Homo sapiens: one gene and its partners. The protein of the gene in region 3 interacts with the protein of the main gene of each other region in a biochemical or structural test. Each region holds a gene or a part of one and is shown on either strand. Other genes may lie near its edges.

Region 1 (6,973 bases), on a different chromosome or scaffold from region 3:
TATATTATTTTTAAAAGAATATTTTAGCTGGTCTCTTCAAAACACTTGTTTCCCCCAGCCCAACACTCTTCAAGTGGCATTGAATCACTCGTTTTGAAGGTAGCATTTTTTCTTTTCTTTTTTTTTTTTTTTTTTTTTAAGACAGTCTCGCTGTGTCGCCCAGGCTGGAGTACAGTGGCGCAATCGCCGCTCACTGCAAGCTCCGCCTTCCGGGTTCAAGCCATTCTCTTGCCTTAGCCTCCCAAGTAGCTGGGACCACAGGCGCCCGCCACCACACCCGGCTAATTTTTTGTATTTTTAGTAGAGACGGGGTTTCACCGTGTTAGCCAGGATGGTCTCGATCTCCTGACCTCGTGATCCACCCGCCTCGGCCTCCCAAAGTGCTGGGATTACAGGAGTGAGCCACCCCGCCCGGCATGAAAGTAGCATTTTTATTTTTTAACTAGAGAGGCTACTTTTTGGAATAGTCTCTCTACTGCTACACTTACTTTTTTTTTTTTTTTTTTTTTTTTGAGACGGAGTCTCCCTCTATTGCCCAGGCTGGAGTACAACGGCGCAATCTCTGCTCACTGAAACCTTCACCTCCTGGGTTCAAGCGATTCTCCTGCCTCAGCCTCCGGAGTAGCTGGGACTACAGGCATGCACCACCACACCCAGCTAGTTTTTGTATTTTTAGTAGAAACGGGGTTTCACCATATTGGCCAGGCTGGTCTCTAACTCCTGACCTCGTGTTCCGCCTGCCTCGGCCTCCCAAGTATAGGGATTACAGGCGTGAGCCACCGCGCCTGGCCTTACACTTACTTTTCACCCAAGTTTTTAAATCTACTTTCCTAGTAATAGCCGTTCCTTACCTATTTAAATATCTCATGTGGCCTCCATCAAATGCTTCTACTTCAAGCCAATTTTAAACATACTTTTCGCGAAAAGATATGTTGTTTGGCTCTATTATTAAAAGCTGCTTAATGCCTCATCTGACAAAAAATTTCCCCTTACAGATTTTCAGAGTATGAAAGGTTAAGACTGATGTCCCTTCTACATTACTTAGGAGAGCTTTCAAATAGAAAAGCAAAAACTATTTTATATACATTCAAATTTATTTATTTATTTTGAGACGGGTTTTCACTCTTGTTGCCCAGGCTGGAGTGCAATGGCATGATCTCGGCTCACCGCAACCTCCACCTCCCAGATTCAAGCGATTCTCCTAACCTCAGCCTCCCGAGTAGCTGGGATTACAGGCATGTGCCACCACGCCCGGCTAATTTTTTTTGTATTTTTGCAGCGACGCGGTTTCTCCATGTTGGTCAGTCTGGTCTCGAACTCCCGACCTCAGGTGATCCGCCCGCCTCGGCCTCTCAGAGTGCTGGGATCACAGTTGTGAGCCACCGCGCCCAGCCTAATTCAAATTTTTTAAAACCCCGATTACGTATCACTTTCGGGGAGGGGGCTCCTTCAAAAATTCTAACATGCTGTGCTCTAGAAGCTTGTTCCCAGTGATAAACTCGCTTCAGCCTCACGCATCCCTTTAGATTTCTAGCCAATATACTCAGCCTCAGTATCATGACTTGAATCAAGCAAATCCTTATTACTTTTCCAAAGACATAAAGTCACTCCCCTCTTCTCTCTTCTGAATGGAGTCTAAAACAAAAGAAAAAAAAGGTTCCACCTTAATTGTTCTCCATACCTTTTAGGACGTAGTTAGTACCTTGAAAAATAACCTCCCGTCAAAAAAAAAAAAAAAAAAAAAAAAACCCTGTAAAACCGGCAGTTCCCACTGTACGCGGCAGTGCCAAGAATTCTTACCGGTTAAAATCGCCAAGGCTTTCCTTTATCATCGTAAAATGAAGACTGCCATAGAATCTGTATTCACCTCCACACAAATTTAAGATCTTTGGGACGACTGTAGGTTAATTAAATGCCTACTACATACCTATTTCATCCTACACTGTAACAAGATAGTGAAACCTCACCTCAAGTAGAACATGAAACACAGAAAATGTCCGTATCTTTCCAAAGTCGACACGTGCGGAACTACCTGCTCAATGGTAACTCCTCCTCGCTGCCAGGGAAGCGGCTGAGTTTTGGCAACCTCCCGTGTTTTCAAGAGACTGGAGTTAGGAGGCGGACTGGAAGTACCCACACTCAAGAAACCCAGACACTGGAGAGGGAAGTATGTTGCGGCGTGGGCATGGCTTCCTTCTAGTTGCCTAGCAGTACCTGCAGCTCACGGCGAGGTCCGCGTGGGGCTCTCCCAGGAGCTCCGCCAGGCACCTGGCGGCACCCACCACAGGTGCACTCGACTCAGGGCCTGGCCCCGGGACCACAAAGCAACAGAACCGGAGCGCCCAAGCAGCCGAGAGGCGACCCACGAAGGTTCACGCTTCAGGGCGCCGCATGGCGAGCAGCTACCGGGAGCTTAAGGCCTAGGGTGAAGTTACCGAAAGAGGCGAGTAACCCAGACAGCCAAAGGGGTAAAAGTAGGATTTCCGGCATGGGGAAGCCAAGGAACGGTTCAGGGGTGGGGGAAGCAGACATCTGGAGGAAAAATGTCCTCCACCCGCCAACGGTAACCGGAACAAGGATCCTGGACCTCCCGCCCCCAGGCAGGAACGACTGCCACCACCGATGCGAGAAAGGCTAGGGGGCCGCTTCCAGGGAGCCCCCAACGCGGCCTCGGCCTCACTCGGCGACCTTCCCTCGGCGGGGTGTCGCACTCACATTGTGAACGGGGCAGGGGGACGGGCGAACTGGTGGGCGGGCCTCTCTGGCGGCGGCTGCTGCTAGGGAGTCGACTTCTCTCCGGTGGCGACTCCGCTTTTTCTCTCCGGTCGCGGCCTCTTCTCGCTTCCCTCAGGCGACGGCGGCAGCGGCGGGCTCGACCTCGGGCCCCAGAATGCACCGCGCGGAAAGAGCGGCTCCTCCGGTCGGGGAGAAGAGGAAAGTGTAGGAAAAGGGGCGCGAGGACGGAGAATGAACGTGCGTGCGTGCAAACGAGGGGTGGTGAGGCCGGGCGGCGGCTGGTGACGCAGCAAAATGCCCGGGCCTTGCCGCCGCGCGTGCGCAGTCCTTGTTTTTGGGCTCCGGCGCGGCTTTCTAGAGATATCTACGGAAAGGGCGGGGCCTCCCAGCTCCTTCGCGATCCTTCCTGGCGCCGGCCCCGCCCTTCGTCCGCCACCCCACCCCCACTCCGCCCCCTGCTAGTCCCTACGCGTTCCCGCCTCTCCTCCCGCTCTGTCTTCTCGCGTTAGAAAACCGTTAGTGGCCCAACTGCCCTGCCATGCGCCTTCGGCGATTTCTCTGAGAAACGGTTGCGTTGACAGTGGGAGGCAAGGCTGAGGCGGAGGGACACGGAGTCGGGATCCTGGAGAACTGAAATGGCGCGTTGGTTACTCTTGAGGGAGTAAATCAGCTCACTGAGTCATCATTCCACCACAAAAACCTGTAAAAAGCCTGTGCTGTGGAAAAGGGCTCACTTCAGAATCAAGGGCCTGGGTCCACCTCGCCATTTTTCTGAAGGTTGGAGGCTCTGTCCAGGGACAGCGGAAATTCGAGGTTCTTGGCGGAGGAGGAGCATTTGCCAATTGGGGCGGGCTTTTGCCCCTACCTTGAGACCTTAGTGCTGTAGATGAGCCAGGAAAGGTATTTGAGGGGAGAGTCTAGGTTTCTGGGAATGGAGAGAGTAGGACATTGTGTGTTTCCACGCACATCGTTTGGGGGAGAAGGGGTTCCCCGTCGCTTTGTGCAACATATTAGTAGGGTGTAGTAGGGGTAGCAACCAAGAGACCCAAAACAGTCCTGCTTAAGAAGAAGCCGCTTAACGGTGGATTGGGGAAAAATACTCTAGTGCGCTGCATTTTGAACAGGAAGGAGGTTTAACGAAAGTGCTATAAAACCTTTCTGAAGAACGGGGCTTCATAATAAGCACTAAGGTATTTAGTGTCTGTGTTGTGCAGGACAGGTAGTGGGAGCTACGAAACCTGGACCCTAGCTCAAATGCCATTAAAAAGGGAAATTGGGCGGGGCGCCCGTGGCTCACGCCTATAATCCCAGTACTTTGGGAAGTTCGGTGGGCGGATCACCTGAGGTCAGGAGTTCAGGACCAGCCCACCCAACATGGTGAAACCCCATCTCTACTAAAAATACTAATTAGCAGGGCGTGGTGGCACTTGCCTGTAATGCCAAATACTAGCTAGTATGAGGCGGGAGGATAGCTCGAACCCCGAACCCGGGAGGCGGAGGTTGCAGTGAGCACTCCAACTTGGGCGACAGAGTGAGACCCTGTGTCAAAAAAAAAAAAAAAAAGGGAAGGGGCCGGGCGCGGTGGCTCACGCCTGTAATCCCAGCACTTCGGGAGGCAGAGGCGGGCAGATCACGAGGTCAGGAGATTGAGCCCATCCTGGCTAACATGGTGAAACCCCGTCTCTACTAAAAATAAAAAAAAATCAGCCGGGTGTGGTGGCACACGCCTCTAGTCCCAGCTACTCGGGAGAGCGAGACAGGAGAATCGCTTGAACCCGGGAGGCGGAGGTTGCAGTGAGCCGAGATCGCGCCACTGCACTTCAGCCTGGGCGACAGAGTGAGTCTGGGTCTCAAAAAAAAAAAAAAAAAAAAAAGGAAGTTAACTTGGCGCACTGGTTCACGCCTGTAATCCCAACACTTTGGGAGGCCGAGGCCAGTGGATTACTGGAGATCAGGAGTTCAAGACCAGCTTGGCTAACATGGTGAAACCCCCGTCCCTACTAAAAATACAAAATATTTGGCCAGGAGCAGTAGCTGACGCCTGTAATCCCAATACTTTGGGAGGCCGAGGCGGGCGGATCACGAGGTCAGGAGTTCAAGACCAGACTGGCCAACATGGCAAAACCCCATCTCTACTAAAAATACAAAAATTAGCTGGGCGTGGTGTGCCTATAATCCCAGGTACTCAGGAGTCTTAGGTGGGAGAATCTCTTGAACCCGGAAGACGCAGGTTGCAGCGAGTCTAGATTGTACCACTGTACTCCAGCTTGGTGACAGTGAGACTCTGTGTAAAAAAAAAAAAAAAAAAAAAAAAAAGAAAAGAAAAAATAGGTCACAACCAAATAATGGTGGCACTGAATGTCAGGCTAAATTTTTTTTTTTTTTTATGTTTTTGAGACAGGGTCTCACTTTAACTCAGGCTGGAGTGCAGTAGTGGTATCACAGGTCACTGCAGTCTTGACTTCTGGGTCCAATTGATCCTCCTGTAACGACTGAATTTAAATATATGTCCAGAGTCACAAATTGCAAAAGAGAACTTTATAGACTGATTTGAGCAATTAAAAAAATTGTTAATTGAAGGTGAGAACAATCCTATTTTATAAGGGGGCTTTCTAATAAGATAACAACTTAGAAGTTGTTAATTTTGTATTAGGAAGTCAAAGGGAAAGGGTGCAAAATGGTAAAAATGTCTCCTGGAGGCCGGGCGCGGTGGCTCACGCCTGTAATCCCAGCATTTTGGGAGGCCGAGGCGGGCGAATCACCTGAGGTTGGGAGTTCGAGACCAGCCTGACCAACATGGAGAAACCCCATCTCTACTAAAAAACACAAAATTAGCCGGGCGTGGTGGCGCATGCCTGGAATCCCAGCTACCAGGGAGGCTGAGGCAGGAGAATTGCTTGAACCCAGGAGGTGGAGGTTGCAGTGAGCCGAGATCATGCCATTGCACTACAGCCTGGGCGACAAGAGCAAAACTCTGTCTCAAAAAAAGAAAAGTCTCCTGGGTATAGGGAATAAAAATTGGGCCGGGCGCGGTGTCTCATGCCTGTAATCCCAGCACTTTGGGAGGCCAAGGCAGGTGGATCACCTGAGGTCAGGAGCTCAAGACCAGCCTGGCCAACATGGCAAAACCCCATCTCTACTAAAAATACAAAAATTAGCTGGGCGTGGTGGCAGGCGCCTGTAATCCCAGCTACTTGGGAGGCGGAGGCAGAATTGCTTGAACCTGGGCGGCAGAGGTTGCAGTGAGCCGAGATCATGCCATTGCACTCCAGCCTGGGTGACAAGAGCGAAACTCCATCTCAAAAAAAAAAAAAAAAAAAAAAAAAGACGGGGCACGCGTGGCTCACGCCTGTAATCCCAGCACTTTGGGAGGCTGAGATGGGTGGATCATGAGGTCAGGAGTTCAAGACCAGCCTGGCCAAGACGGTGAAACCCTGTCTCTACTAAAAATACAAAAATTAGCCAGGCTTGGTGGTGGGTGCTTGTAATCCCAGCTACTTGGGAGGCTGTGGCAGAACCTGTGAGGTGGAGGTGGCAGTGAGCCGAGATCTCCCCACTGCACTCCAGCCTGGGTGACGAGACTCTGTCTCAAAAAAAAAAAAAAATTGGCCATAAACCTTAAAAGAGATATTATGACCCAGCTTAATATAAACATTACTAGTAGCCACCTGTAGTCCCAGCTACTTGAGAGGCTGAGGTGGGAGGATTGCTTAAGCCCAAGAGTTCAAGTCCAGCCTGGGCAACGTAGGGAGACCCTGTCTTTGAAAAAATAAATTTTTTTTTTTTTTAGATGGAGTCTCTGTCGCCCAGGCTGGAATGCAGTGGCACGATCTCTTTTTAGTAGAGACGGGGTTTCACCATGTTCACCAGGCTGGTCTTGAACTCCTGACCTCAGGTGATCTGCCTGCCTCGGCCTCCCAAAGTGCTGGGATTACAGACGTGAGCCACTGCGCCCAGCAAATAAAATCATTTTTAAAATTACTTATGTTTTAGGCCAAGCATGGTGGCTCATGCCTGTAATGCCAACATTTTGGGAGGCCAAGGTGGGAGGATGTCTTGAGGCCAGGAGTTCAAAACCTGCCTGGGTGGCCATGAGCAGTGATTCACACCTGTAATCCCAGCACTTTGGGAGGCTGAGGCAGGTAGATCATCTGAGGTCAGGAGTCAAGACCAGCCTGGCCAACATGGTGAAACCTCATATTTACTAAAAATACAAAAATTAGCTGGGTGTGGTGGT
Region 2 (7,022 bases), on a different chromosome or scaffold from region 3:
TTTAAAGACCTTTTTATGCAGGTTAAAATATAGACTATTTTTCTTTAAGAGAGAAATGTACGAACAGTACCCTTGATTATACCCCTGCAAATAGGGCATTTTCTTAGAGAAGGGGCACATTCCTGGCATACTACCAGATGACCACAAGGAATAAATACAACAGAAACTTCTTTGTCCATACACACTTTACAAGTTCGTTCTTCTTGCAACCTCCTCAATTGTTCTTCCAGTGACAGACCTAATAACAAAAAATAACTTTAGTGAAATTGTTTCCACTTCATTAAAAAAAAAGGGTAATAGTTCATGTTGGTTTTAAATCTTTGTTTTACCTGAAACATCTTCTGTTGGAATATACTTCATATTCTTATCCACTGAGGAAAGAAAACATAAAAACCATTACTCTACTAAATACAAAACTGAGCCACCGCATCTGGCCAGTCCTAAGAATTTCTAAAATAATTTTCCCAACAAACTCACCAAATAAGTTCTTATACAATGTAGAGTCAATTTCTTTTAGACAGTTTTTGAAGATGTTGGCCGCAGCATTTCCTTTAACCAAAATGGTATCAATCAGTTCTCTCGCTTGTAAAGGTATCTGTGTTTTTTGTTTAATAATATCATGTTCCTGTTTATTAATTACATTGGCCTTTAAAAGATTATCCAGGATAGGAAGCACACATGTCAATTGTTGAAAGAGAGCCATTCTGTTCTTCCGAATTAATGACAAATCATCTTCATTAAAAAAAGAAAAAGAAATCCATTAGATTTTAAACTCCTTTAACTATACTCATATAGTCACTAATAACCAACCCTACAAACAATTTAGGCACTAAATAAAGTTCAAAAAAGAACAAAGTAACTTGTTTGCATTTGTAAGTTTGTTGTTTGGAAAACTTCCAGAGGAAGTCTCTGTTTAATTTTTAAGTCTATATATTTACATGTCCTAGAACTCCGCTTTTACTTTATTTTGTTGCAAGAGATTTGTAGAAGACAGTAAAAATTTCCCCCCACCATATATAATAATACTCTTGTATTTCCATTATATCATTTTACTTTTGTAAGCACTTTCATAGTAATTTGTCTCATTTGATACAGTGATCCTGTCAATTAAACAAGGCGAGTATTACTGCCTCTCATTTTTACATAGGGAGAAAAAAGACTCAGAAAAGAATGAGTGGCCTAAGATCACAAGAAAGAATAAGCTGCAGAACCAGGCATCCTAGACCAGTGTTCTTTTCAACACCCCATACTTAAGACGTGGTATTGTAGTATTGTAGGGTTTGAGTTGCCAAGTCAAAACAGACCTAGGTTCCAGTGTTGGCTAGGCCCACTCACTAGCTATGTGTCCTCATCCTTCCCCATACACCTCAGTTTCCTCATCTGTAAAATATACATAACGGTACCTTCCTCAAAGTTGTAAGGATTGAATAATACATGTAAAGCATCTGGCACAATATGTGGTACATAGTTAACTACCATTATTATTTTATAAATGTCTATGTTTATAGCAATTAAAAAAAACTACCTAAGAATCAAGCCTGACCTTTTTTTAAAAAGCCAATGTTTTTCCTTTAATATCGCATCACATAAAACTCCACAGTTAATTTATATTTATGGAATATGGTAGTTCCTTCTTTTGGTATCTGAATCATTATAAAATTTGTCTATTTTCAGACTTTCAAAAAAATTTAAAAAGTACATCTCTACAAAGTACCAGTTTAATGAGAAATAAATTATAAAAACAGAAGCCTATCTTCTTTCCCCTTTTACATCTCTCTAGAAGTGAACTGCTCTATTAATCTCAAAACTATAAAATTCCATTCTGTGACAACTTTTTCTTCTACCTAAATAATTCCTCTCACTGCTAACCAATTTGTTCTTCACCTTTTCAAGATCTCCATGTCATTCCCAATTCTACTTGCACAAGAGCTATCTCCTGGCTTTGCTTCAAACCTCCTATTCTAATCTAGGTAGCAGTCAGGTATTTCAATGAAGTTCTCTATATTAGCACCCTTAACTCATCTTCCGTATTCCTTACTTGCCCTTTCCCCTATTAACACTGCCAAATCTGTAATTCAATACTATTTTCCAACCCATACAAAGTATGAGAAAGTCATAAATCTAAGGTGACAGTGATTTCATATAACCTTAGCTGGATTTCATTACTACTTAACAATCCTTAAATTGACTTTTCTTAGGCCCTTTCTTTCACCAAGTCCCTCCCACTTCCCAAGTCAATCTACCTAATGCTTAAAAAAAAAAAAAAATTGACGTGCTAGGAGCTGTGTTAAAGTGTTTTATTTGCAATATCTCATTTAATTCCTACAGCAACCCTATGGGAGTCATACTATTATTATCCCCATTTTACAGATGAGAAAGCCGATGTCTGGTTGAATAAATAGCCAAGCTAGTAACTGATAGAACTGGAATTTTTTTTTTTTTTTTTTTGAGATGGAGTCTGGCTCTGTCACCCAGGCTGGAGTGCAGGGGCACGATCTCGGCTCACTGCAAGCTCTGCCTCCCGGGTTCACGCCATTCTCCTGCCTCAGCCTCCCGAATAGCTGGGACTACAGGCATCCGCCACCATGCCCGGCTAATTTTTTGTATTTTTAGTCAAGACGGGGTTTCATCGTGTTAGCCAGGATGGTCTCAATTTCCTGACCTTGTGATCCGCCCGTCTTGGCCTCCCAAAGTGCTGGGATTACAGGCATGAGCCACCGCGCCCAGCCTGGAGCTAGAATTTAAACACAAATCTGTTTCAATGTAGAAGTCCAGACTTTAAATATTTTGCTACACGGTCATGCAATAAGGTACTCTTAAGTTATTCCTGTCTTTACTTACAAGCTTAAAAAGAAAGCATCTTCCAACGCAATACTCCAATACATATGCAACCTTCGCCTCTCTGCTGGCCCTTTAACCCTGTCTTTTGCACACTAGTCTCGCCAGCTAGTGTATATACTCCTTGACAGCAACCACTGTGATTAGGCACAGTATTTGGCACTGGTGCTCATGCTCAACAAATATTTATTGAAGGAGGGGAGGAGCCAAGATGGCCGAATAGGAACAGCTCCGGTGTACAGCTCCCAGCGTGAGCGACGCACAAGACGGGTGATTTCTGCATTTCCATCTGAGGTACCGGGTTCATCTCACTAGGGAGTGCCAGACAGTGGGCGCAGGCCAGTGGGTGCGCGCACCGTGTGCAAACCGAAGCAGGGCAAGGCATTGCCACACTTGGGAAGCCCAAGGGGTCAAGGAGTTCCCTTTCCGAGTCAAAGAAAGGGGTAACGGACGCACCTGGAAAATCGGGTCACTCCCACCCGAATATTGCGCTTTTCAGACTGGCTTAAAAAACGGCGAACCAAGAGATTATATCCCACACCTGGCTCGGAGGGTCCTACGCCCACGGAGTCTCGCTGATTGCTAGCACAGCAGTCTGAGATCAAACTGCAAGGCAGCAGCGAGGCTGGGGGAGGGGCGCCCGCCATTGCCCAGGCTTGATTAGGTAAACAAAGCAGCCAGGAACTCGAACTGGGTGGAGCCCACCACAGCTCAAGGAGGCCTGCCTGCCTCTGTAGGCTCCACCTCTGGGGGCAGGGCACAGACAAACAAAAAGACAGCAGTAACCTCTGCAGACTTAAGTGTCCCTGTCTGACAGCTTTGAAGAGAGCAGTGGTTCTCCCAGCACGCAGCTGGAGATCTGAGAACCGGCAGACTGCCTCCTCAAGTGGGTCCCTGACCCCTGACCCCCGAGCAGCCTAACTGGGAGGCACCCCCCAGCAGGGGCACACTGACACCTCACACGGCAGGGTATTCCAACAGACCTGCAGCTGAGGGTCCTGTCTGTTAGAAGGAAAACTAACAAACAGAAAGGACATCCACACCGAAAACCCATCTGTACATCACCATCATCAAAGACCAAAAATAGATAAAACCACAAAGATGGGGGAAAAACAGAACAGAAAAGCTGGAAACTCTAAAACGCAGAGCGCCTCTCCTCTTCCAAAGGAACGCAGTTCCTCACCAGCAACGGAACAAAGCTGGATGGAGAATGACTTTGATGAGCTGAGAGAAGAAGGCTTCAGACGATCAAATTACTCTGAGCTACAGGAGGACATTCAAACCAAAGGCAAAGAAGTTGAAAACTTTGAAAAAAATTTAGAAGAATGTATAACTAGAATAACCAATACAGAGAAGTGCTTAAAGGAGCTGATGGAGCTGAAAACCAAGGCTCGAGAACTACGTGAAGAATGCAGAAGCCTCAGGAGCCGATGCGATCAACTGGAAGAAAGGGTATCAGCAATGGAAGATGAAATGAATGAAATGAAGCGAGAAGGGAAGTTTAGAGAAAAAAGAATAAAAAGAAATGAGCAAAGCCTCCAAGAAATATGGGATTATGTGAAAAGACCAAATCTACGTCTGATTGGTGTACCTGAAAGTGATGGGGAGATTGGAACCAAGTTGGAAAACACTCTGCAGGATATTATCCAGGAGAACTTCCCCAATCTAGCAAGGCAGGCCAACGTTCAGATTCAGGAAATATAGAGAACGCCACAAAGATACTCCTCGAGAAGAGCAACTCCAAGACACATAATTGTCAGATTCACCAAAGTTGAAATGAAGGAAAAAATGTTAAGGGCAGCCAGAGAGAAAGGTCGGGTTACCCTCAAAGGGAAGCCCATCAGACTAACAACGGATCTCTCGGCAGAAACCCTACAAGCCAGAAGAGAGTGGGGGCCAATATTCAACATTCTTAAAGAAAAGAATTTTCAACCCAGAATTTCATATCCAGCCAAACTAAGCTTCATAAGTGAAGGAGAAATAAAATACTTCACAGACAAGCAAATGGTGAGAGATTTTGTCACCACCAGGCCTGCCCTAAAAGAGCTCCGGAAGGAAGCACTAAACATGGAAAGGAACAACCGGTACCAGCAGCTGCAAAATCATGCCAAAATGTAAAGACCATTGAGACTAGGAAGAAACTGCATCAACTAACGAGCAAAATCACCAGCTAACATCATAATGACAGGATCAAATTCACACATGACAATATTAACTTTAAATGTAAATGGACTAAATGCTCCAATTAAAAGACACAGACTGGCAAATTGGATAAAGAGTCAAGACCCATCAGTGTGCTGTATTCAGGAAACCCATCTCACGTGCAGAGACACACATAGGCTCAAAATAAAAGGATGGAGGAAGATCTACCAAGCAAATGGAAAACAAAAAGAGGCAGGGGTTGCAATCCTAGTCTCTGATAAAACGGACTTTAAACCAACAAAGATCAAAAGAGACAAAGAAGGCCATTACATAATGGTAAAGGGATCAATTCAACAAGAAGAGCTAACTATCCTAAATATATATGCACCCAATACAGGAGCACCCAGATTCATAAAGCAAGTCCTGAGTGACCTACAAAGAGACTTAGACTCCCACACATTAATAATGGGAGACTTTAACACCCCACTGTCAACATTAGACAGATCAACGAGACAGAAAGTCAACAAGGATACCCAGGAATTGAACTCAGCTCTGCACCAAGTGGACCTAATAGACATCTACAGAACTCTCCACCCCAAATCAACAGAATATACATTTTTTTCAGCACCACACCACACCTATTCCAAAATTGACCACATAGTTGGAAGTAAAGCTCTCCTCAGCAAATGTAAAAGAACAGAAATTATAACAAACTATCTCTCAGACCACAGTGCAATCAAACTAGAACTCAGGATTAAGAAACACTCAAAATCACTCAACTACATGGACACTGAACAACCTGCTCCTGAATGACTACTGGGTACATAACGAAATGAAGGCAGAAATAAAGATGTTCTTTGAAACCAATGAGAACAAACACACAACATACCAGAATCTCTGGGACACATTCAAAGCAGTGTGTAGAGGGAAATTTATAGCATTAAATGCCCTCAAGAGAAAGCAGGAAAGATCTAAAATTGACACCCTAATATCACAATTAAAAGAACTAGAGAAGCAAGAGCAAACACATTCAAAAGCTAGCAGAAGGCAGGAAATAACTAAGATCAGAGCAGAACTGAAGGAAATAGAGACACAAAAAAACCCTTCAAAAAATCAATGAATCCGGGAGCTGGTTTTTTGAAAAGATCAACAAAATAGATAGACCGCTAGCAAGACTAATAAAGAAGAAAAGAGAGAAGAATCAAATAGACGCAATAAAAAATGATAAAGGGGATATCACCACTGATCCCACAGAAATACAAACTACCATCAGAGAATACTACAAACACCTCTACACAAATAAACTAGAAAATCTAGAAGAAATGGATAAATTCCTCAACACATACACTCTCCCAAGACTAAACCAGGAAGAAGCTGAATCTCTGAATAGACCAATAACAGGATCTGAAATTGTGGCAATAATCAATAGCTTACCAACCAAAAAGAGTCCAGGACCAGATGGATTCACAGCGGAATTCTACCAGAGGTACAAGGAGGAACTGGTACCATTCCTTCTGAAACTATTCCAATCAATAGAAAAAGAGGGAATCCTCCCTAACTCATTTTATGAGGCCAGCATCATTCTGATACCAAAGCCGGGCAGAGACACAACAAAAAAAGAGAATTTTAGACCAATATCCTTGATGAACATTGATGCAAAAATCCTCAATAAAATACTGGCAAAACGAATCCAGCAGCATATCAAAAAGCTTATCCACCATGATCAAGTGGGCTTCATCCCTGGGATGCAAGGCTGGTTCAATATACGCAAATCAATAAATGTAATCCAGCATATAAACAGAGCCAAAGACAAAAACCACATGATTATCTCAATAGATGCAGAAAAAGCCTTTGACAAAATTCAACAACCCTTCATGCTAAAAACTCTCAATAAATTAGGTATTGATGGGACCTATTTCAAAATAATAAGAGCTATCTATGACAAACCCACAGCCAATATCATACTGAATGGGCAAAAACTGGAAGCATTCCCTTTGAAAACGGGCACAAGACAGGGATGCCCTCTCTCACCACTCCTATTC
Region 3 (7,390 bases):
TTCAAAGCCTCTGAGTTTATGACACAAGTTAGAAAGAAGGGCACTTAGTATGTGCAAACGATCTGTCTTCCCTGTGCCAGGTGAAGTCCTAAGATGGTGTTTTTGGAAGGACAAAAGGAGAAAATGGGAAAGCCTTCACAGATCTAAATGATTTGTATGATATAAGTGTAAAATGGAGGATCTCGGATGCCTTTTTATAAAAATTACAGATGACTTTAAAGCCTCAGCACTCCCACCAAGGATGACTACTTTGCAGAATCAGATTCAAGTTTAAAACCGCTTGAAGAAATCCTGCTGTCAGGAAGACTGAAACTGCCAAAACTCAGATTCAGTAGCATTTATTCATTTGATATTTGCACCATAACAATTTACTGAACACCAACTGTGTGCAGAGTACTATACTAGACCCTGAGTGTATCAAGCAGTGGAAGAGACAAACCCTATCTCTATTCAGGGCTTATACCGATGCTCACTGGTATTCAAAAGTGGCTCAACAAGGCAGATGCCAGACCGTGTCCAATACATATCAGGTAGCTTGATTTCATTATTGTAATGCAAAGAAGCTCTACAGGCAACATGTGAAGGTAAGAACAAAACATGCAGAGAAAGAATATTATATAAATCTAAGAATTCTCCCATCTTTGTTTAGGCCCAAACACCAGTGCTTCTTATCTTTGGGGCAGAGCTTAAAGATCTAATAGTAGGCACCAGAAGCAATGTAATATATCATTCATCAAAATAAAGACTGCTTTGTAGGGGGATGAAGCAGTAGGAGATTGTGTTAAACGAGGTTTGAAAACAAAACAGTAAAGAAGCATTATAATTGCCTATATCAGATGCCAGTCTCTTCAAATGGCAAGAGGCAAGGCCTTTATTCAGGATAGCAAAAGCAAATCTGATTTAACTAGGTACAATGTCTAATGTCTCTTACTTTGAACAGGTTTTATTGCCATACTCCAATAAACTGTTCATCCATTCACTAAAATAATTTTCACTTTCAAAAACCTTCTTTTGCAAAAAGGCAAAGCAAAACCAAAGTCCAAGCATCGGGCTGTGATAGAGATGATTTAAGCTTTATATTTCATTTTTAGAGATTATGTAACCACAGCACGCACATTCACAGTGGCTGAGCCCATTTTGATACAGTCTGGTCTAACCACCTTGCCTGGCCCTCTTTCAGCTATCTTGCAGGTTTACATCGTTTCAGTGACTCCGTATGTCACCTCTACCATTTCTTTTCTAATTATTATTTGCTGAATAATCCTAAACCAGGTCTACTTTTTCTAGATAGGGCATAAAAGTAAAAATACAATGGATGGGCATTCACTGTGTTATGCCAGGCCCCGCATTTGGGGCAAGACACTAAGGATACCAAGATAAACCAAGTCCGTCCCTCCTGGAGTTTGCTTGCAAATCTAGCAGGGAAGATAGTAAACAAGCAACTGCAAAGGATATGACACATCTCTCTTAGGGAATGCTGGCTGCAGAAAGAACACAGCATAGGAAGATTTAACCTTAAACTGTTTAATGAAAACAGAAATTTAAGTAGCAGCTCTTCTAATCAAATGTGATGGCGGGAGAAAGGGAGTGCAGAGGTGTTGCAGGCAGACACTAGGTATGAAGGTCAGCATTGCCGTGCAGAAATCGAACCGGTGCTAAAGATAAGGAGGGGTGGGGGCACTCAGGACCCAACACACGCAGGGGTTTGTTAGCCATATTAAGTGCTGGGTTTAACCTAAGGGCAAAGGACGAGCTTTCTAGACTTTCATTTCATAAAGATCCCTCTGCCTGTGCTGTAAAAAGTGGACTGCAAAGGAGCAGGCGGGTCTGGAAGTGGAGAGACCAGGGAAGAGGCTGCTGTGGTCAGACGGCTGAAATCAGAGATAGAGAGACGCGGACAGATCTGGCAGACATTTACAAGGTCGACAAGGCTTGGCGACTAAGCAGGAAAAGAAGTGGGTGGGCGAGAGGGGGCTGCGAACGATGTTTTCCGGTTTCCTGCTTGGGTGCCACTTACTGAGAATGGGGGAAGAGGCAGGTGCAGGGCACACCCACCGAAAACCAGAGCGCCGAGTGTGAGCAGGGCTCGCTAACTCCTCACGGCCTGGGATTTCAAGGCGACGCCAACCAGCTGTGGCCACGGATACACAGCCACAGGTATGAGCTGCGAGCACTCACGAAACTCTGCAGGGCCGAAAAGGAATTGGAGTTTAAACCCTGCAACTATCTCTCTGGAAGAGCTAAACCACATTGTCAACCCGGGATAATCCAGGCCCCAGGCATGGAAGGCAGCAGAGACGGAAGCCTCGTCCAAAATTGGAAGGATCAGCCCCCAGGGCGAGTATCTCACAGTCAGCACCCGGCCGCCCCAGCCCTCGCAGCACCGCTTCCCGGGGCCACTCCTCCGCCGGCGGTAGCGCCGTCCGTTTCCCAGCTTGCCGCTGCCTTCCGCCGCCTGACCCGGCCTTCCGGCACTCGGCCGGCCGCCAGGTCTCCCGCCCTCGGAGCTCGGTGCCCCGTGCCCGACCTCCCGGCCCCGGGCTCGGTTCCCCTGGCCAGGCCTCCCGCTGCCTGGCCTCCCCGGCCCGGCCTCGCGCTGCCCGGCCTCCCCGGTCCCAGCCCAGCCTCCCGCCCCCGGGCCAGGTCTCCCCTCCGATGACCTGAGGCCTTTCCTTAGGTTACCCCCAGGTCCCTCTCCCTAAATCAAAAGCCTTAACCCGCTGCCTGGCTTCCCCGGCCCCGGCCCAGGCTCCCGCCTCCGGGCCAAGTCTCTCGCTCCGCGGGCTTCACTGCTCGCCCCCGCCCGGGCGAGGTGGCAAAACAAACACTCCGCCTTCCAGACCGGGCAGGTACCCGGGCGGGCGCAGGGCCTGGGAGAACGCAGGGAGCGGGGGCAGGGCTGACGGCCCGGAGCGAGGGCGGCAGTCACCGCACAGCCTCCTCATACCTTCTACAACCGCCTCACAATAGCACCCATCCGCTAGGAGCCGCGTCTGCACTGCTTCCGCGGCCCGCCGCCGGGAGATGTGCTCCAGCGCCAGCCCCGCCTCCCGCCCGCCCCTGTCGGCCCCTCGCGCCGCCTCCGCTGCGGCCCGTCCCCTAGCTCCCGCCCGCCCGAGAACCCAGCCCCAGGCTGGGCCCCAGGAGGCGCCCGCCCACCGCAGCGCGCCCCGCCCCCGCGCCCCGCGTCCTCACGCCCTGGTCCCGCCCTCGCGTCCCGCGCCAGTCCTCCCGCTTTGGTCCCGCCCTGAGGCTCGGCCCGGCTCCCCCGCCCCGGATTTGAAATCTAGGTCTTCCTGAGAGTCCGCGGGCTTCCGCTCCCAGCGCGGGATTCTGGAGGGAAATTGAGGGAGACTTGGAAACCGCGCCAGGCCCAACGGGTACCTAGAAGGGAGACAAAGCCAGGCCTGCTGCCCAGTTTGAGCTCTGGGAAGAAGAGGAGCAGGCCGGGACGCCCACCGGTAATTTCTGTCTCCTCTGCGATGACCTGAGGCCTTTCTTTGGGTTACCCTCAGGTCTCTCTCCCTAAATCAAAAGCCTTAACCTCCTGTCATCAGGGTGCCAGGCTAGAAATAACCAGGTCCACGCATGCTGTGTTTTCCACCATGTCAGGCTGCTGTGGACGCTCTTTCGATCACAAAAGCCACGAGCTGCGTGGAGTTCCCAAGGAGGCAGTTCTCAGCACTTGCTGGTCACTGGGTAGTCAGAGCCTGACACACAGGCTCAAGCCGCTCACGCATCATAGTAGTGTACTTAATCCACATATAAATGTTACAAGTTAAGCATCCCACAACAAAGTAGCATTTAACATCATGAGGAAAAAGAGATGGGGCAAAGAGATTAACGAACCAATCCAGAGGGAGTGAAGAAGAGGAAAAGAAGCCTGGTTTGGGCCGAGAGGTCCTTCTGCAAAGACGGCGTCAATTAAGCCGGCTGTTGGGAGCTGCCGAAGGCCCCATCTTTTATAGTCACAGAGTCCTGTGGTGAGAACTGGTAATGGAAGAGAGTGCTTGTTTGTGTCCTTACCTGGCTGGATGCGGACTATTTTTTTATTTGTTTATTAAAGTATAGTATGCTTGTTGGCAAATGCCTTATGAAATGTAAAAATGGGGTCTTCTCCTAAGATGGAGTTATTAATGGTTACGTCAATGGTGTGCTATATACACTGCCCTACCGATCCCCTTCCTATTTTGGGTCGTGAACTCATTTCAGACCCTGAAGCAAACTGTGAATCATTTTCGCAGAAGAATTCACCAACACATGTGAGCACGACATTCTGCATCAGATTTCAAAAAGTTCTTGACATTCAGAAGTCAGATTCAGGGACCCCATGGCAGAGCCTGTTTCTAACACTTGCGCCTATTCGACTATAGGGACTATATTCTGCACAGAAATATACTTAGTTTTATATATGGTTACCCCTTGCTGAGTTTATTGCATGCTTTTACATTTTCATAATACATTTGTTTGTTTCAGCCTTTCAACAATCCCTCGGGATAGGAATTCCAATTTAAAGAGGATAAGGTTTAAAGAGGTTAAGGCCGAGTTTAAAGAGGTTAAGTCCCGGCGCGGTGGCTCATGCCTGTAATCCCAGGACTTTGGGAGGCCGAGGCAGGTGGATCACGAGGTCAGGAGTTCGAGACCAGCCTGGTCAAGATGGTGAAACCCTGTCTTTACTAAAAATACAAAAAAAATTAGCCGGGTGCAGTGGTGGGCACCTGTAATCCCAGCTACTTGAGAGGCTGAGGCAGGAGAATCGCTTGAACCCGGGAGGCAGAGGTTGCAGTGAGCTGAGATTGCGCCACTGCACTCTAGCCTGGGCAACAGAGCAAGACTCTGTCTCAAAAAAAAGAAAAAAAAGGGGTTAAGTAGTTTGCTGTTGCTAAAAAGACAGTCACAGGAGTTAAACTCAGATCCCACAAATAAGACTTAGGCCTTTCTTTATCCCTCCTGAATTGAGTGAACACCAATGTTTGACAGTCCTTTTTCTGCCTCAATAAAACTGAGAAATAGGACCCACTCCCAACCTTAACAGTGGCTCTGCAGAGCAGTAATTTGCAAAGAGGGGACTAGTGTGGTTGAACTAGTCCTTATCCTATTGTGATGCCCAAACCCCTTCCTGTGCTAAACTTTCTTGCCAAATTAGCAAGCATTAGCAGCAGTTTTCTGGTTTCCTGTAAATCATACTAATTTACTTAGTCTGTGAACTTTTTTTTTTGAGACGGAGTTTCACCCTTGTTGCCCAGGCTGGAGTGCAGTGGTGCAATCTCGGCTCACTGCAACCTCCGCCTCCCGGGTTCACATGATTCTCCTGCCTCAGCCTCCCAAGTGGCTGGGATTACAGGTGCCTACCACTAGGCCCAGCTAATTTTTGTATTTTTAGTAGAGATGGGGTTTCACCATGTTGGCCAGGCTGGTCTCGAACTCCTGACTTCAGGTGATCCACCCACCTCGGCCTCCCAAGTGCTGGGATTACAGGCGTGAGCCACCGTGCCCAGCCAAACATTTTAATTATAGCCAAACAGTAGGCTGGAGGCAGTGTCTTCTGGCTGAAGCCAGTAATTTCTCTTTACAGAGGTATCCCAGAGGTGACAGAACTTGATCTGGGCCTGGAAGGGGAAGAATTCGGGAAAAGCAACGTGGGGCATTCCAGGTAAGAGAAATGTGTGCTGGGTGCGGGGGGAGGTTTCTGGAGTGGCTCAGGAGAAAGCAGAGGTCATTATCAATTCATTTGGTGAGATGGTGGAAGAGTAAGAAATGAAATAGGTAAATGATTTAGGGCCAGATTCTGGAGGGGAGTTTAGACTTCGTGACGTTAGTTTACCTGTGTGAGTTGAATGTTGCTATGAATCATTATCCCTGTGAAAAGTGATGAAAATGGTTTTAAGGGTGATTGGGCTGGCAGAGTTATGCTGTTTGGATGGGAGATCCTGTGGGGAGGATAGAAAGGAGGAACTGGAAAAAAAAAAAGCACAATATATCGCTGTGTGTTTTCTTACTCCTTAAAGAGGATTTGGGGAAATTTAAATATGAGTTACTTCTGCTCAAGCATAGAAAGGCAAAGTGACTGAAGTGGGAGAAAAAAGGAAAATCCAGTCACTTATACTTAATTTCTTAAGGTGTTATTCATCCAGAAAGTGAACTTATATAATAATATTTTTGTAAATGCTTTTTGATCACATACTTTATAATAAATACTTTAGCAGTGGGAGAAATAGTACGAATGCATTCCAAGAGGCTAGAAAAGGGATTATATTAAGAAAATATTGTCAAATACCAGGATATTACCAAATCATAGAACTAGAGTATTGGCAGAAAATGCAAAATACTGATGAATCTAATCTCAGGGTAGAGGGAGAATTTGGAGTTGGGGAATAGGAATTGACCAGTGATGAGAAAAAAAGAAAAAAGAAAAGGAGGGAGGAAGGAAGGAAAGAAGGGAAAGAAGGGAGGGAGGGAGGAAGGAGGGAAGGGAGAAAGGAAGGAAGGAAGAAGGGAAGGAAGGAAGGAAAGAAGGGAAAGAAGAGGGAGGGAGGAAGGAAGGAAGGAAGAAGGGAAGGAAGGAAGGAAAGAAGGGAAAGAAGAGGGAGGGAGGAAGGAAGGAAGGAAGAAGGGAAGGAAGGAAGGAAAGAAGGGAAGGAAGGAGGGAAAGAAGAAGGAAGGAAGGAAGGTAGGTAGGTGAGAAAGAAAGAAACTGAGAGAACTAGGCTAGGAAGAACCATGGCCAGGCTGGCTTCAGGTCCCCCCAGAAACTGGTAAATAGGAAGCATGTGCCCCCTCCTTCAGCTGCTCCTGGAATCCAGACCATCAAGTGTCACAGCTGGGCAAGGCTGGGCATAAACGCAGGGAAGCTGGGGCTACTTAGGTCTGCGTCATCTCTCCCCTTCCATCCCTGCTGCCTCTTCTCCCACTATAGTTACTCGAAAAGAACTAACATAGCCTTTTTTCTAGCTTGACCCCCTTTGGTTGAAAGATCAGTATCAACCATGCTTAAATAATCAAACATGGTTAAACAAACATTCTGTGCAATGTTAAGAATTAAATAATAGAAACTCTTTGAGCCCAATCTTTTATTTTGTTTTTTAGTAGAGATGGGGTTTCACCATGTTGGCCAGGCTGGTCTCGAACTCCTGACCTTGTGGTCCACCCGCCTGGGCCTCCCAAAGTGCTGGGATTACAGGTGCAAGCCACTGCACCGGGCGGAGCCCAATCTTTTAAAATACAATAAAAGTTTTCCTTCGGAACTTGGAAACTTACCAAAAATAGTTACAGTCCCTGAGTGGAAAGGAGCTTTGATACACAATTATGTAAAAGAAAGACAACACTCTTTCACCACCGGGAATGAAAAGCATTTCTAATATGGTGACATATTCCCCCAGAGGGGAGGGAT
Region 4 (7,459 bases), on a different chromosome or scaffold from region 3:
TGTAAGCCTTAGCACTTTGAAGATAATAAGACCAACCTCAGAACCTGAGGATTAAATGTATGTAAAGCACCCAGCCTAGAGCCTGATACATAGTGAGTAGGCAGTCAATTCCTGATAGTTATTGTCACATTTTGCTGCTGCTGAAGGAAACGTATCTGCTGGTACCCCCCTTGCATGGGTTTGGGTTTATGGGAGCAGCTTTTGCTGCAAGTCTCCTCCTGTGCTGCATTGTGTGGCAGGATGACTGGGAAGACTGGGCCTGATCAGCCTCTCATGCTATGAACCAATGCTATGCCTCTTTTTTTTCTCAACTCAGGTTAGAGCACAGTGAATGGGACTCTTCCCGGACTCCTATCATTGGCTCCTGTGGCACTCAGGAGCAGGCACTGTTAATAGATCTTACAAGCAACAGTTGTCGAAGGGTAAGAGGAAGAAGGATAAAGAGAGGGTGTTTTATTATCTGACAGGGCTGGCTATACTGGGGGCAAGGAGCTGAGGAGAAGGAATGTGGAAGTCCAGCCACTGAGCAGCGAATGAGTCTAAGGCTGGAAGGGCGTGGAAGATTAGAACCTGGTGGAATTTGCCAAGTTGTTGACTCTGAGGCAACTTTCCTCTCAGAATACCCCTTTCTACAGTGGTTGGGTCAGCTTTGCTTAAGTGCAAGACTAGTAGGAGGGAAAGCAACATAGCCCTATAGGGTGAAAACTCTCTGACTTTCACATTTTTCTTTCAGACCCGGAGTGGCGTTGGATGGAAGCGAGTCCTGCGTTCACTCTGTCATTCACGGACCCGAGTGCCACTTCTAGCAGCCATCTACTTTCTAATGATTCATGTCCTGCTCATTCTGTGTTTTACGGGCCATCTATAGACTTAGTTGTTACTCTTTGGACCACTCCCCTCAAAACTTGGAATTCTCTCACCTCTAACATCAGAACATCAATTCCAGTGGAACAGTCTTCCCATTTACAGGTCTTCTCTCCAACTCTTCACGGAAAGTGCCTGCAAAAACAGAGGTGGATACGAGGACAGGTTGGAGCTGCAGGGACTGGCGAGTCTGCTTTCTTCTACTGCCCTGAGCCTGAACGCTTCTGCTTAATCTGAGAATCACATTTGGTTTGTTGAGCCTAATATTTGTTGAGATTTTGCAGGACCCTGATCTTTTGTGGTCCTGTAAAAGATACTGAGGAATGTCTTTCAGCCAAGCCAAGAGGATGGTTTCAATAAACCTAATAATCTGAAGTTCAGTATCATTTTGATTGATAACTTTCTTTGCCTTGTTTGCCTGTATTTTCTCCTGTTTCAGGGGGAAGGTGGCTCTGCCATAAACAGAGTTCAGGGAAATGAACATGTCACCTCATAGGACATCTGATTTAGGTCTCTTGCAGAATAGGGTGGTGAAAGCTGAAGGAACTCCCTAGGGGTTTTAGCTGTTAGATCACATGGGAGGACAGCATCTTCTTCCCTGCCAATTTCAGATATAATTGGAGGGAGAATTTCAGGTCTTAGACTATAAGGATAGAATCCCTTTGCTTTTGCCCTTGATCACATGTATACTAAGGTATTAAGTGGCCCAAGTCTTTCCTTTCACCAAAGGGCAGGGAGAAGTGTCTATGGACAGCAGGGTTCCAATTCTTGTCATTCCAGGAATATCTGAATATTCCTGGAATGTGGACCCTGAGACAGTGCTCAGGGGCCACTGGGAGCCAATATTAGGCATTGACTCTCAGCCAGGAGTCTGACTGGTCTAACACCACACTGCAACTCCTGACCTCTTGAAGTACTAAGCTACTTTGCTGTTAGTGACAGTTATTACAGTTTCTCAGCCCCATTGTCTCTGCCCTCTGTGGCAATGGAAGGAGAATATAGAGAAGACAAAATTAAATATAGATAGACCTGAGAAGGACAGCCAGGATAGAATTCCATTTGTGCCTATTCCCTGCCTCCCCTCCCCTCCCCCATCCTACCAGTTGGTTATTTTCTCATTGCATACGTGATGTGTTCACTGCCTAGCCTCTCCCTAAAGAAGAGAGAAGACAAGTGGGCTGACTGATCTGCTCTAAATCTACTGTGGTGATTAAATCTTGGTTACAACATCCTGGGAAGTTTCCTGAACAACTGTAAAATAATAAAATTATTTTCAGAATGAAGAGTTTGTGTGTATGTGTGTGTACGTGTGAGTGAATGGATATGTGCACAGGTGTTTCGGTACCTGTGTTTGCATGCTGGGGGGTGGAAGGTGGGTAAGGGAAGTAGGGAAAGGAGGTAGCCAGGAATGGTTATAGGGGTAGAAAGCTCTACATATTCAGGCTTTCTTCTCACTGGCCAATATCAGTGACAGCTGCATGCATTTTTCCAGCCTTAGCTGCTAGACCCCAGGTGATGAATGCAGTGAGGAAATTCTATCCTAATACTGAACCAAATAAGCTGGGCCTTAGGGCATGAAATTGATGCAGGTCCATGCATGGTCCTGGGAGAACTCTTGTCTGGCACATAGTGAAAACATTAGGCCCCTAGGGATCCCTCTGGGTGGGAATGGGAGAAGAGAAGCTTAATAGCATGTAGCAGGTTAGATAGGCATTATTATGTTTTGTTTTGTTTTGTTGGGTTTTTTTTGAGACCGAGTTTCACTCTTTCGCTCAGGCTGGAGTGCAGTGGCACAATCTCAACTCACTGCACCTTCCGCCTTCCAGTTTCAAGCGATTCTCCTGCCTCAGTCTCCCAAATAGCTGGGATTACAGGCACCTGCCACCATGCCCGGCTAATCTTTGCACTTTTAGTAGAGATGGAGTTTCACTGTGTTGGCCAGTCTGGTCTCAAACTCCTGACCTTGTGATCCACCCGCCTCAGCCTCCCAAAGTGCTGGGATTAGAGGTGTGAGCCACCGTGCCCAGCTATTATGGATTTTTATATTAAGTTGCTGCTTGAGAGAAGATAGCTCACTTTCTCAAAGTACAATAAGTGGTTTAATTGAACCAAGTCTGTCTGGCTTCAAGGCCCATTCTTTTTCTGTGTGATACACCTCACTACCTCATCAGTAATGAACTTGTGACATTTGCTAAGGAAAGATGGGACTTCTTGGTGTCATCTCTGATTAATTTCTATATTTTCTCTAGAGAACTATGTACCTGGATGGTGTGTCACATCATCTAGTCTAAATCGTATTTTGACACTACATGAGGATTCCAAGTGATTTTTCTCTTGTACAAACGTACTCTTCCTTATCATAACTTTGGTACCACCATGATAAATAGGTAATAAAGTAGAAGGAATAAATAAAGCTCCCCCAGGCATAGAATCCTTAGATTTGGAAGTGACAGAGGCTTCATATTCCTAATGCAGAAAAGTGCCTGTATCATGGGCCAGTTTCATCCAGTCCTGCTTAAACTCCTTGGAGGATGCACCGTTGTGAACAAATCAAGAAGTCCACAATCAAGATTAGGAAAGGCTAGGTCAGATACAATAACAGACACCCTCAAATTCTCAGTAGCCAAAACAAAGGACTATTTTTTAGTGAAAGACTCCAATTCCCCCACATGGTGGATGGGGCTCCACTTGTGTTCTTTCTCACTCAGGGACCCAGTCTGCTGGAGGAGCCAATATGGAGAATTGCAGGTTGCCTTGGGCAGTGGTGAAAGCATGGCAAAGCTTGCAGTGGTCTTACGGCCTCCGCCAGAAAGTGGTATCTGTCACTGGCCAAAACAAGTCACCTGAGTAAGTCTGACTTCAAGAGGGAAGGGAGGGGCAGCAAGTCTTGACACGCAGTAAAACAGGATACCACAAAGACCTTCTTCCATCAGCTGACCAGCACCTGGTTCTTTCAGAATTCTTCCTACGCTCTAGAGCCAAATCTTTAGTTTGTTAGCTCAGACTCCACAGTGCCCCAAACAAGCTAGGAAACTCTCCTTCCATGTCTTGCCTTTTCCCTCATGAGTTATTCTCTTCTGGCATTCAATTGGTCGACGTTTATTTGAACATCTATATGAAAACTCCACTTTTAAGTGCTGTGGGTAATATAGGGGTGAGTTTCTTTTTAAGTCTTATGCTTCAAAACCCACATATAAATCACTTTTCCCATAAAGCCTTTCTTGATGAATACACCCAATACCAAATGCTCTGAATTCCTTTACTGTCTCAAATGTAACTGCCACCCTATTTAGGACACAATGCTGTTCTACAGCATTCTCTAATGTGTTTTCTGGTTGAATGTTTGTTTCTCTCACTGGATTACAAACTCAGAGTCAAAGCAGCATTTTCTATGACTGCTCTATGACCCCCATTGTCAAAACCTTGCAAAAGACCAGGCACAGAAACATTTAATCCTTTTAAAATTTAAGTGTCTAAAGCAGAAGGAACTGACTCAAATTTCAGGAAGTAGCTGTGAGGATGGGGTGGCAGGAAATGACGAAAACCTGAATACGGAACTGAAGCAGCAGCTCAGTTTCTCACTCCGAAGTGGCAGCAGCCAGAGAGGGAGTCGGTGTGGACGCGAGGAGCCGGGCGCTTAGAACAGAGGCTTGCACAGGTGGAGGTGGGTACTCTGAGCCATGGGACAGTTGGGAAACACAGAGTAAGAGTTGAGGAGGAACCTACCTGGCTCTTAGTCCTTGGTGATGGGCAAGGTCACCACTAGTAGGCTTTTATCCTTTTATGGCCAGAAGGCCTGGTTGTGAGTGGTTGTAGCAAATCAGCATCTGGAGATAGAAACAAAAGGGAGGGGCTTAAACCCAAGGCAAGTGTTTCAGGAGCCATCTAGCACCAACATCAAGCAAAGTGTTGCCTGGTTTCTGCTGACAATCTACAACCCACTCTAAGGCCTGTCTCCCCTAGGTACTGAGCTGGGAGGAGGACCACAGGAGACGAAAACAGTGTCTGCCCTTGAAGAGCATATGGTCTCAGGGAAACAAACCCACACAGGAAATGTAACAGATCAGGAAGTAGTCACTGATGTACACTAGCACTGAGTACCAAGTGCTGATGGAGCCCAAGAGAAGGCATGATTGTTCTGCTGGGGCTAGTTTCTGTGTTCGTAGATCACAGAATCTCAGAATGTCAGAAATCAAGGAGACCACAGATGAGCTACGTTAACCCCTTCATTATTTTCCACTGGGAAAATCAGAGATAATTGCTGATTTGCCAAATTATTAAAGTTAGTATTTCTTAATCGCCTGGTCTGATACCTGGCAAATGAGTACCTACTCTGTTGATGCCCTTGTGATGGTCCCTCAGAGGCTTAGTCACAGAGCTGGGGTGACAGCCAGGGCTTCTGACTCCCAGTCTGTGTACTTTGATGCAGGAGGTCAGCATCGCAACAAGGCCTCACCAGATTACTCTCTGGTTCTCACCTCTAGATAGCACTTCTTACCTTTCTGGTTTCTGGTCAATAGGTCAAGGATATTAGATAAATTGTCTCTATTTCAGAAACTCTTTATTTCAAAAATGGGTGAATGGGAGAGTCAGGCTGAGGCCTCAGAGGAGCCACAGGAAGGAGGATGGGACCATCAGTCCTCATTGCTTCCTTATTGCTCATGACTATTTCAGAAACTTCTCCATTCCAGTTTTCTGTGTGACAGTCCTTTTGTTGTTGCACAGCAGCCCAGGAGCCAGGGGATGAGAAGCAGAGGGGTAGTAAGGATGCAGGTAGTAAGGATGTTTTGCTGTCTCCAACCGCATCAGGGAAAGCCAAGCTGCTTTCAGCCATGACTCCCGGCTGACTCAGTCAATATCTCTCCGGTGTCCCCTTAGCATCTCTTTAACTGATTTACCCAGACTTCCCCTGGGCTGGTTTTTAAGAGGTTGCTCAATGGAGAAGATGGAGCTTTCAAGTGGAAATAGAAAACTGGAGAATCTGAAGGCCTAGGTGGAGACAGGAGAACCCGAGGAGTGGTTGTAAAGGGACTCTTTGGAGACGATGGAGAGCATGGGGAAGGTCTCCAATGGGATGAGGTGTCTGAGGAGGGAAGGATTGCCAGCTAGCAAGTGCTGCCAGGGTCAAGAAGTCTCAGTGGTGACCACAGCAGATGAGCATTGTCTGTTGTTACTTCTTCACACCAAATCCACAGATGCAGAGCAACTGTGCCGCTCTTCCTTCTGCACAGTCCGGAAGGCCGTCTAGAACACTGGGAATGCCCCAGCAGAATAAGTTTGGCACCCTTCCAAGCTAGGGTTCTCTAAATATTTCTGCAACATTTATTTAGTTGATAAAAACTGAGTACCTCTTAATGTTCAAAATCAGATTTATTACATATTATTCTTTTTTCTTTTCTACGGTAAATTGTCAACTTGAAAACATGCTATTTTTTGACTTTAGCAATTAATTGAACCATTTTTAAAAAATTGAGTAATAACTGACTTATTCCCAGCAAATAATGCTCTCCCAATGCATTGTTCCATGTGGAAATTTCAGCCGACTGTCGCTGCTGACCTTACACAGCTGTGAGGTGACCAGACTCAGGGTGGAGGTGGGACAGCACTTGGACCAGAGGCTGGAAAAATTCTCAGTGTAGTTCAGCAGGTTGTAAAGAGGGATGTAGATGTTCACTTTGTGAGAAGCAGAACCAATTTGTATTTCAACAGCAACAAAGGAATCATATATAGAAACCTGAGTGAAATAAGGCCATAATTCTAGGGATATTATAGCACCGCTCATTGCCAACCACCTCCAGCCACTGCCTGGCTGGCCTCGGGACACAAGTGAACAATTCCAGCAATTTTGACTCGTGGGTTACCTAGTGTTACCCACACCCATGATGACTTCTCTCTAGCCCCAGGTGGGCCCAGCCCACATCAATTCGTCTTGATTAAAGTCCCATCTCTCATCTTGTAACTGAGCAGAAAAGCCTTCCTACAACTCCCATTTGCTTTGCTTCATTTTCTATTTTCTTCTAAGAAAAAAAAAATGGCAGGAAATATTGGGCTGCTATATTTTGACTTCAGCATTCCTATTTTCCCTCCTCTTGATCCTTTTTTGTCCCTAATTATTCCCATCTCCGGTCACTCTCAGATGTGGAAGTCTGTAGTGGGCCATGATGTGTCTGTTTCCGTGGAGACCCAGGGTGATGATTGGGACACAGATCCTGACTTTGTGGTGAGTTTGGAAGTAGCTTTGCTTGGACAGTGCAGAGGGTGGGGTGAGGAGGGCATCTGGGCCACTCTGTGATCTTTGAGGATGCTTGGAAAAGGGCCTTCTAGGACTGAGACAGCCCTCATACTGGGACTAATTGGTAGGACAATTGGCTGTCACCTGTGGGGCATGCACGATACCTGGTATCAGGGATGAAAAGAGACAGGTGTGGGTGAGTTTGACAGTGTGATTGACAGGCCATGGCAGGCTACACTGAAGGTGAGAAGCAGGTGAACCTGGGTCTCCCCTGGCCCATGATCCAGGATTCAAGCTGGGCATGTGTAATTGGGGGATTAAAAAGCTGTAGGAGACCAGATGGGGTAGGCATGAAGTAGGCAG

What was found.
Region 1: of the proteins of CASP3 (region 3) and PTGES3, one has a biochemical effect on the other in vitro, tested with the Homo sapiens proteins (2 studies listed by BioGRID and IntAct).
Region 2: the proteins of CASP3 (region 3) and BIRC2 form a complex in vitro, tested with the Homo sapiens proteins (3 studies listed by BioGRID, with this or other methods).
Region 4: of the proteins of CASP3 (region 3) and HCLS1, one has a biochemical effect on the other in vitro, tested with the Homo sapiens proteins (2 studies listed by BioGRID).

What each region holds. Positions count from the first base shown.
Region 1 is NC_000012.12:56,685,283-56,692,255, forward strand, and holds the start of PTGES3 (prostaglandin E synthase 3), read right to left. Parts: upstream 3,003-6,973; 5' UTR 2,718-3,002; coding exon 2,716-2,717; exon of another isoform or gene 1,982-2,715; coding exon of another isoform or gene 1,968-1,981; intron 1,636-1,967; exon of another isoform or gene 1,601-1,635; coding exon of another isoform or gene 1,587-1,600; intron 1-1,586. UniProt on the Homo sapiens protein: Cytosolic prostaglandin synthase that catalyzes the oxidoreduction of prostaglandin endoperoxide H2 (PGH2) to prostaglandin E2 (PGE2).
Region 2 is NC_000011.10:102,371,206-102,378,227, reverse strand, and holds part of BIRC2 (baculoviral IAP repeat-containing protein 2), read right to left. Parts: intron 733-7,022; coding exon 478-732; intron 372-477; coding exon 330-371; intron 239-329; coding exon 45-238; 3' UTR 1-44. UniProt on the Homo sapiens protein: Multi-functional protein which regulates not only caspases and apoptosis, but also modulates inflammatory signaling and immunity, mitogenic kinase signaling, and cell proliferation, as well as cell invasion and metastasis.
Region 3 is NC_000004.12:184,646,448-184,653,837, forward strand, and holds the start of CASP3 (caspase-3 isoform a preproprotein), read right to left. Parts: upstream 3,001-7,390; 5' UTR 2,948-3,000; exon of another isoform or gene 2,661-2,947; intron 2,185-2,660; 5' UTR 2,018-2,184; intron 1-2,017. UniProt on the Homo sapiens protein: Thiol protease that acts as a major effector caspase involved in the execution phase of apoptosis. Following cleavage and activation by initiator caspases (CASP8, CASP9 and/or CASP10), mediates execution of apoptosis by catalyzing cleavage of many proteins.
Region 4 is NC_000003.12:121,657,889-121,665,347, reverse strand, and holds the start of HCLS1 (hematopoietic lineage cell-specific protein), read left to right. Parts: upstream 1-4,444; 5' UTR 4,445-4,528; intron 4,529-7,000; coding exon 7,001-7,084; intron 7,085-7,459. Other genes in the region: GOLGB1 (golgin subfamily B member 1), read left to right, coding at 317-422, 734-868. UniProt on the Homo sapiens protein: Substrate of the antigen receptor-coupled tyrosine kinase. Plays a role in antigen receptor signaling for both clonal expansion and deletion in lymphoid cells. May also be involved in the regulation of gene expression.